3 separate regions of the Homo sapiens genome follow, and all the other regions are linked to region 1. Evidence: fine-mapped expression QTL. A gene starts in region 1. Each other region holds a variant in brackets. All regions are shown on one strand. Distances are from middle to middle.

What was found.
Region 2: its variant is fine-mapped to the expression of BCAS2 in whole blood (INTERVAL, PIP above 0.99).
Region 3: its variant is fine-mapped to the expression of BCAS2 in whole blood (INTERVAL, PIP 0.95).

Annotation. Positions count from the first base shown.
Region 1 is chr1:114,580,100-114,582,599 of GRCh38, forward strand. BCAS2 (BCAS2 pre-mRNA processing factor) reads right to left here and starts at 1,516. Exons shown (of 7, transcript NM_005872.3): 1 at 1,400-1,516; 2 at 1,200-1,292. The coding sequence starts at 1,492. LOC105378914 (a long non-coding RNA gene) reads left to right here and starts at 1,744. Exons shown (of 3, transcript XR_947719.4): 1 at 1,744-2,300; 2 at 2,426-2,500.
Region 2 is chr1:114,547,244-114,550,095 of GRCh38, forward strand. No RefSeq gene overlaps it. Among named protein-coding and RNA genes, the nearest start is that of BCAS2, 33 kb to the right of the region's middle. The variant T/C (reference allele first, on the strand shown) is at 1,223.
Region 3 is chr1:114,551,390-114,554,241 of GRCh38, forward strand. No RefSeq gene overlaps it. Among named protein-coding and RNA genes, the nearest start is that of BCAS2, 29 kb to the right of the region's middle. The variant C/CT (reference allele first, on the strand shown) is at 1,327.

The DNA.
Region 1 (2,500 bases):
ACTTTTTAATTTTTCTTTTGTAGAGAAAGGGTCTCACTATGTTGCCCAGGCTGGTCTCAAGTGATCCTCACACCTCAGCCTCCTAAAGTGCTGGGATTACAGGTGTGAGCCACCACACCCAGCTAAATACTGCCTTTTAATAATACAATCCTTTCATAAATAAACGATTAGGTATAATGGGAAAAAATCCTCCAAGCTGTACATACTGAAATACTTGAATCCAATAATTTAGAAATGATATCTTACATTTCATTTAGCTAACTAGACCCTAACTAGAATCCTGGGTGTACTTCAAGGTTATACATTTAAAATAGTATCATACTCAATGTGTGGAGTAGAACAGCATCTGACTCCTTAGGCAATCATGGACACTCCCTTCTCTAATCCTCTTGTCCTTATACATACCCTCCGCTATAGGTCCTTTACATATTATTACACATTTATACATACTATTGTAAACTTTTTGTTTTATATATCTAGCTCCTCACTGTATTGTATTTTTCTGTATTCAGAAACCCTATCTTTTTTGGAGAGGATGTTTGTCTTAAATAAAGAAAAGAAAAATTAAAAGAAAACAAAATATATTAAAAAAGAAACCCCATATATCTCTATGATCTCAGAATCTAGAATGGCACCTAGCACTTGTAAAGTATTCATATCAGTGAAAATTATTGCCTACATTAATCAGAAATGTGTTAATAAAAACATCGGATAGATTACAGAAAAAAGGAGAAGGCTGAGAAAAAAGTAGTATACACTTGGATATGGTTTGTCCTTTCAGTCGTATCACATACATTTGGTAAATAACTAGACTTTAATATGCCACTCTCCAGTGGTTCTAAAGAGCTTAGGTAATTAGGCTTATACATATTAAAAAACCCTAGATCACTTGCTGTAGAGTGAATCTTGGCAGGAGAGGGTCCCTTTGAGAATTTACGCATGGATCCTATCTCAAAGAATGGTAGCCACAAATTTTTGCATTAAGTGAGTTGTGGAGCCCCAGAAAGTCTTCCTATGGATCTTAGAATAAGAACCTCGGAGAAGACTTATCTATCTAGTTGTTTTCAATAGACTGACACCTATACAGTAGGTAAGTAGTAGCTATGCAGGCAATGGTTAAAACTGGAATTTAAAGCTCTCAATCCAAAATAAAGGTTCACAGGAATTCTCGTTCACACCTAGGCTCAAGACATACTTACTTCAAAGGCAGAATAATCCGGGGCTGTCAGGTAGCTCAGGTAGTTCTTAGTAGGTCGGTATCTGCGAGTTTCCTCCTCCACCAGCGCTGCAGCCTAAGAAAGAGAATAGGGACCAGGGTAGAAGTGGCAAATTGTAACATGTTTCTTTCAGTACCGAGCCAGCTAGCAGTGAGTCAGCTACAAAGACACCCCGCACTCACCGCTTCCCGCACACCAGGGGCTTCATAACCTTGATCAAAATACGGCAGCGCATCCACCACAACCTCTCCAGCCACCAAACCTGTGCCCGCCATTCTGAGGACCTCAGGTTTGCCTGCGTTTTCTGCGTCTGCGTAAACTCAGTTATATTTAATTACGCCGGCGCCTGACACTGATGTAATCACGTTCCCTCCGTATTGACGTTAGTGCATGCTCAGTTGCTAATTTTGAAGGCGGGTCCGCCCGGTATCTAGAAATTGCCGGGCTGGTTTGTTTTGGGCGGACGTGACGTAACGTCTTGGCTTGTCTGCGTCAGCGAAAGGCCTCAATTTCCTGTCCTCTGCTTACTGCCCCTTTTTTTGCCTGCGAATGGCGGCGATTTGAAGTTGGGGCTTTTCGTTTCCTCCAAAACATTGATATCTGGAAAGGGAGCCCCTTAACACTTTTGGAGGGAACTGGCTGCAGCATTTGGCGGGGAGAGATAAACTGGTTTCCCACCTCTGCTTACTCCCACCTTCTCCCCTTAATCTTCTCTTCCTCTGTGCGAGACTTTTTTCCTTTTTTATTGTAGACACAGGGTCTTTGTTCTGCTGCCCAGGTTGGAGTGCAGTGGCGTGATCATAGCTCACTGCAGCCTCAACCCCCCGGGCCCAAGCGATCCTTCCACCTCAGCCTCCCGAGTAGCTGGGCCTAGAGGTGCACACCACCATGCCTGGCTAATTTTTAATTTTTTTTGTAGAGATGGAGCCTTTCTATGTTGCCAAGCCTAGCCTCGAACTCCTGGCCTCCCAAAATGTGGGGAATACAGGCGTGAGCCACTGCACCCCGGGTCATTCCTCTTTTACTTCCTTGCTGTACCCCAACTATCCTTCCCCCTCGGTGCCCTTAAAACCTTTGCATTGGGTAAGTACATTTTTTAAAGAGACTCTAGAATTGGGCGCCAGTCTCCAATTAAAATTGTGAAGCTTTATGGTCTGCGTATCAAAAGGAACCTCAGTTCCTTAAAAATCCTGTCATTTTGCCTTTAGGACTTAACGGTAATAGAATGGCATTCCTCACTGCCTCCGAACCACTCAAGCTGCTGCCCATGCACTCTCTTCTGC
Region 2 (2,852 bases), 33 kb before region 1:
AATCTCCTTCCAGAAGGAGGCTGCTAGCAGAGTGGGGAAAGAGGGCTGAGGGATTCTTCCTAAGTATATAAGCTCTCACTTAATCTTTCTTCTTTCAAGATTGAATCCTTGCCCTTGACAGTACTAGGTGTTCCCAGTCAAGCAATTCTCTATTTTCCCCCTTTTTGGAAAACATGCTTTCTGCCTTCTGTCTGCCCAGCCAGCTTGTATTGAAGATGGGGATTTGAGCCTTTCACTGCTTCTTTAAAGTTAAGGTAGAACAGGGTCTAACTCCTTCTTAAAGTTAAATTCGAAGAGCCATAAAGACATCTGGGGGACATTGAGACTGTACATTTAAATAATATTATTATATCTGTGTTTATTTTATTTATTTATTTATTTATTTATTTATTTATTTATTTATTTATTTTGAGACAGAGTCTCACTCTGTCACTCAGGCTGGAATGCAGTGGCACGATCTCGGCTCACTGCAGCCTCCGCCTTTGCTACTTGGGAGTTGAGGCAGGAGAATTGCTTGAATTCTCCTGCCTCAACCTCCAGAGTAGCTGGGACTACAGAAGCACGCTAATTTTTGTATTTTTAGTAGAGACAGGGCTTTGCCATGTTGGCCAGGTTGGTCTCGAACTCCTGACCTCAAATGATCAGCCTATGTTGGCCTCCCAAAGTGCTAGGATTACAGGCGTGAGCCACCGCACCTGGCCCAATTTCACTTTTTACCTCACAGTCACCCCCACTCCCAGAGGTCACTGGTGCTACCAAATCCTGGGTCCAGAAGGTTGTGTGGATAAACAAAACTGCTTTTTAACTTTCATATTTTGCTTTCTCACTGTTGGTTTAAGGTTTAGCTTCTTTGCATCTGTTGAATCAGTTACCCCTCTTCCATTTGCATTCCATCTTCTCCAATTTCTTGCTGTTGTCTCATCTCTCATTTTCTTTGTCTTTGTGGATTTATGCCTTGAAACAAAACAAAGAACAAAAAACTTTTACTAAATGTTGTAGTGTGATTTTGGGAGGTAGTAGAAATAAATGTAAACATTCACTTCACTTTCTTTAGCTTGAAGTTTTCCACCATTTTTTTATTTTTTATTTTTGGAGACAGAGTCTCGCTTTGTCGGCCAGGCTGGCGCAATCTCAGCTCACTGCAACTTGTGCGATGGCGATTGTGCAAATTGTGCGATGCAAATTGTGCGATGGCGCAATCTCAGCTCACTGCAACTTCCAC[T/C]TCCTAGGTTCAAGTGATTCTCCTGCCTCAGCCTCCTGAGTAGCTGGGACTACAGGTGAGCACCAGCAGGCCTGGCTAATTTTTGTATTTTTAGTAGAGATGGGGTTTCACCATGTTAGTCAGGCTGTTCTTGAACTCCTGAGCTCAAGTGATTGTGCTGCCTTGGCCTCCCAAAGTGCTGGGATTATAGGCATGAGCCACTGCATCCAGCCTCTACTATATATATATATATATATATATATATTTTTTTTTTTTTTTTAATTTCAGTTAGTTTTCACAAACGACAGAGCTCCAAGGTCATAATGTATTTCAGCCTTGTCTCTGAGAGTAGCAAAAGTAGTTCACACATATTGAAACAAAGCTATTCACAGCAGTTTAAATTATTTTAAAAAAACTTTAATTTTGAACAATTTTAAACCTACAGAAAAGATGAAAGGATAGTATAATAAACACCCACATACTTTTCACTTGGATTTATCCAGTTGCTAGTATTGTGCTATATTTGTGTTATATATATATATATGCTTATCATCTATTATCTATCTTCCTATTTATGCATGTCTTTTTTTCTTGCTGAAACCATTGAAAGTAAGTCCTAAACATCATAACGCTTCATCCTTAAAACACTCCAGCACGTATCTTTGAAGACCACAATACCTTTATCTTACCCATGAAATAAAAAATTGATGCAATATTATGTAAATCTGTAATACCCAAGTGTGTCCCCAAAATGTCCTATTGCTGTTCTAACTTAATATTTTCCCCTTAGCTATGACTTGCTCACCTCCCTTCCTCCTTGGTTTTCTCGGTACTGCCAGGAAAGGTGGGGCCAGTGAGAGTCAGCGTACTTTGGCACCACTCTCATCCCCTCTCAATTCCACAGCCTCAGCGGTTACCCAGTTTCTGCTTGAGAAGTTGCTCAATCTAGTGTTAGTTGTGGCTTGAATGAGTCCTCAGTCTTTCTTCAAATCACTAGTTTTTTAACTCAGGTATTTTTATCCCAGATATCAGTGTCTACTGGTTTAAATTTCGTTCTTTTTTTTTTTTTGAGATGGAGTCTTGCTCTGTTGCCCAGGCTTGCTCTGTTGCCCAGGAGTGCAATGGCGTGATCTTGGCTCACTGCAACCTCCACCTCCTGGACTCAAGCAATTCTCCTGCCTCAGTCTCCCAAGTAACTGGGATTACAGGCAGGTGCCACCACTCCCAGCTAATAATTTCCTTCTCTTATAAGCTTAGTTAACTTGTTTAGAAAACCTTGGGAACCTGAAGAAAACCCCAGGAACCTGGGCTACTCTAGCAAAAACTGATAGAAGCACCCATAGATTATGTTTTTGGCCTCATCAAATGTTTATATGTTTTCAATTTACTGTGCCAAACCACTTGAAGTCAAGATGTGAGTGGACAGTGAATTGATACCTCTCTACTATAAAAAGTCACAACATTTTGGGGTTCCTGCTCTAAGGATGATCTGAGAACCATCCTAGAAATCTTGCAGCATTTATCTCTGCTTGCATTTCATAAAAATTCCCCCAAATTACTTTAGGAGCTAGGACTTTGAGCCAATTTCACTTCTGATACCAGTCTGTATAGATGTAAAAAAGTAATGATGGCCTGGGCATGGTGGCTCACC
Region 3 (2,852 bases), 29 kb before region 1:
GCATAACAAATTGCTCCAAACCTTGGTGGCTTAAAACAACATTTATTATCTCACAGTTTCTATGGATCAGGAATCTGGATGTGGCTTTGTTGGGGCTCCTGTTTCAGGATCTCTCAAAAGGCTGCAAGTCAAAATGTTGCCCAGCAGGAGGATTGCTTGAGCCCAGGAATTTAAGGCTGCAGTGAACTATGATCACACCACTGCATTCCAGCTTGGGTGATAGAGTGAAAGCCCAGCTCAAAAAAAAAAAAAACAGGCCGGTGGCTCACGCCTGTAATTCCAACACTTTGGGGAGGCTGAGGTGGGCAGATCACTTGAGGCCAGGATTTCGAGACCACCCTGGCCAACATGGAGAAACCCTGTCTCTACTAAAAATACAAAAATTAGGCCAGGCACGGTAGCTTATGCCTGTAATCTCAGCACTTTGGGAGGCTGAGGTGGGTGGATCACTTGAGGTCAGGAGTTTGAGATCAGCCTGGCCAACATGGTGAAACCCCGTCTCTACTAAAAATACAAATATTAGCAGGACGTGGTGGCATACACCTGGAATCCCAGCTACTCGGGAGGCTGAGGCATGAGAATCACTTGAACCTGGGAGGTGGAGGTTGCAGTGAGCTGAGATCGCACCACTGCACTCCAGCCTGGGCGACAGAGCGGGACTCAGTCTCAAAAAAAATAAATAAATAAAATAAAAATAAAAATTAGCCAGGCATGGTGGCAGGTGCCTGTAATCCCAGCTATTCAGGAGGCTGAGGCAGGAGAATCGCTTGAAACCCAGGAGGCGTACATTGCAGTGAGCAGAGATTGTGCCACTTTACTCCAGCCTGGGTGACAGAGTGAAACTGTCTCAAAAAAAAAAAAAAAAAAAAGAAAAGAAAAGAAAAGGAAAGGAAAAGAAAAAGTGTCGCCTGGGACTGCAGTAGACTCAGGCTTGCTCATGTTGTTGGCAGAATTCACCTTCTCCCAGGCCATTGGACCACGGAGTGCAGTTTTGCTCTGGCTGTCTGCTGGAGGCCACCCTCAGTTCCTTGCCACATGGACTTCTCCATAGGGCAGTTCACAACATGGCAGCTTGCTTCATCAGAAGGAACACAAGAGTCAGAGAGTGAGAGTAGAGTGAAAGTCAGTCTCTTATCATCTAATCTCAGAAGTGACTCTCTATCACTTTTGCCATATTCTACTTGTTAGACGCAAGTCACTAGGTCCAGCCCACACACACAAAAGATGATACAACGGTGTTAATATCGGAGGCAGGAATTGGGAGCCACTGTAGAAACTGCCTACCACAAATATCTTTCTGTTACCAGCATATATCTCAACTTCATC[C/CT]TTTTTTTTTTTTTTTTGGTAATAGTTACTCTTTTTTTTTTTTTTTTTTTTTTTTTGAGAGAGGGTCTCTGCAGTACAGCGGCACACTCACAGCTCACTGCAGCCCCAACCTGCCAGGCTTAAGTGATCCTCCTAGCTCAGCTTCCCAAGTAAGTGAGACTACCGGCACATGCCACCAGGCCTGGCTAATATTTCTATTTTTTGTAGAGACAGGATCTCGCCATGTTGCCCAGGCTGTTCTTGAACTCCTGGACTCAAGCAATCCACCTGCCTTGGCCTCCCATAGTATTGTGATTACAGGTGTGAGCAACTATGCCCAGCCTACTCTATTTTGAGATAAATGTCTGCAACTTAAAAAATTTGTATAAAGATGAATATACCTCTGCATCATGGAGAAGACTGCAGAGAGCCTACTATCCTTAACCTCTTCCTTGAAGGATAAACATAAATTCATCAAGAAACAAAGTGGGGAAGGTATTCCAAGGAAAGAAAAAAGCACATGAAAATGGGTAAAAAATGGAAGGATGCATCATGGTGGGTGTAGAGAAACAGGAAATTTTTTCTTTTCTTTTTCTTTTTTTAGATGTGGATTCTTGCTCTGTTGCCCATGCTGGAGTGCAGTGGCATGATCATAGCTCGCTGCAGCCTTGATCTCCTGGGCTGAAGCTGGCCTCCTGCCTCAGCCTCCTGAGTAGCTGGGACTACAGGCACGTGCCCACATCCAGATAACTTTATTTTTTTGTAGAGACGGGATCTTGCTACGTTGCCCAGGCTAGCTTTAAACTCCTGACCTCAAGTGATCTGCCTGCCTTGGCCTCCCAAAGTGTTGAGATTACAGGTGTGTAAATCTCTAATGCCTGAGATTACAGGCATGAGCACGTCTGGCTGAAAATTTAAATATGGTTTGAGGAAGGGGTTCAGGCAGACGAGATTTACAAGATTTGGAAATAATAGCAGCATCTAACATGTGCCAGGCACTGTTCTATGCATTTAATGTGTAATAATTTATGTAATTCTTACAACAACCCTATCAGATACAGTAGAATTATTGTGCTAATTTTCCACCTGGAAAACAGACACAGAGAAGTAAATAAACTTGTCTGATATCACATAGCTATTAAATGACAGTTTGACTCCTGGCAGTTTGACTTCACTGCTAGGTTCACTATCTGCCTTTCTTTTATTTATTTAATTTTTTTTAAATAGAGACAGGGTCTCACTATATTGCCCAGGCTGGTCTCAAACTTCTGGGCATAAGTGATCCTCCTGCCTTGGCCTCTCAAAGTGTTGGGATTACAGGTGTGAGCCACCATGTCTGGCCACTATCTGCCTTTCTCTTAAAAACTTTGTATGCCATGGTAAGAAGTTTAGATTTTAATTTTAGGTAACAGGCTGGGCGCAGTGGCTCACACATGTAATCCCAGCACTTTGGGTGGCTGAGGCAGGCAGATCACTTGAGGTCAGGAGTTCGAGACCAGCTTGGCCCACATGGCAAAACCCTGTCTAGGCTAAAAATACAAAAATTA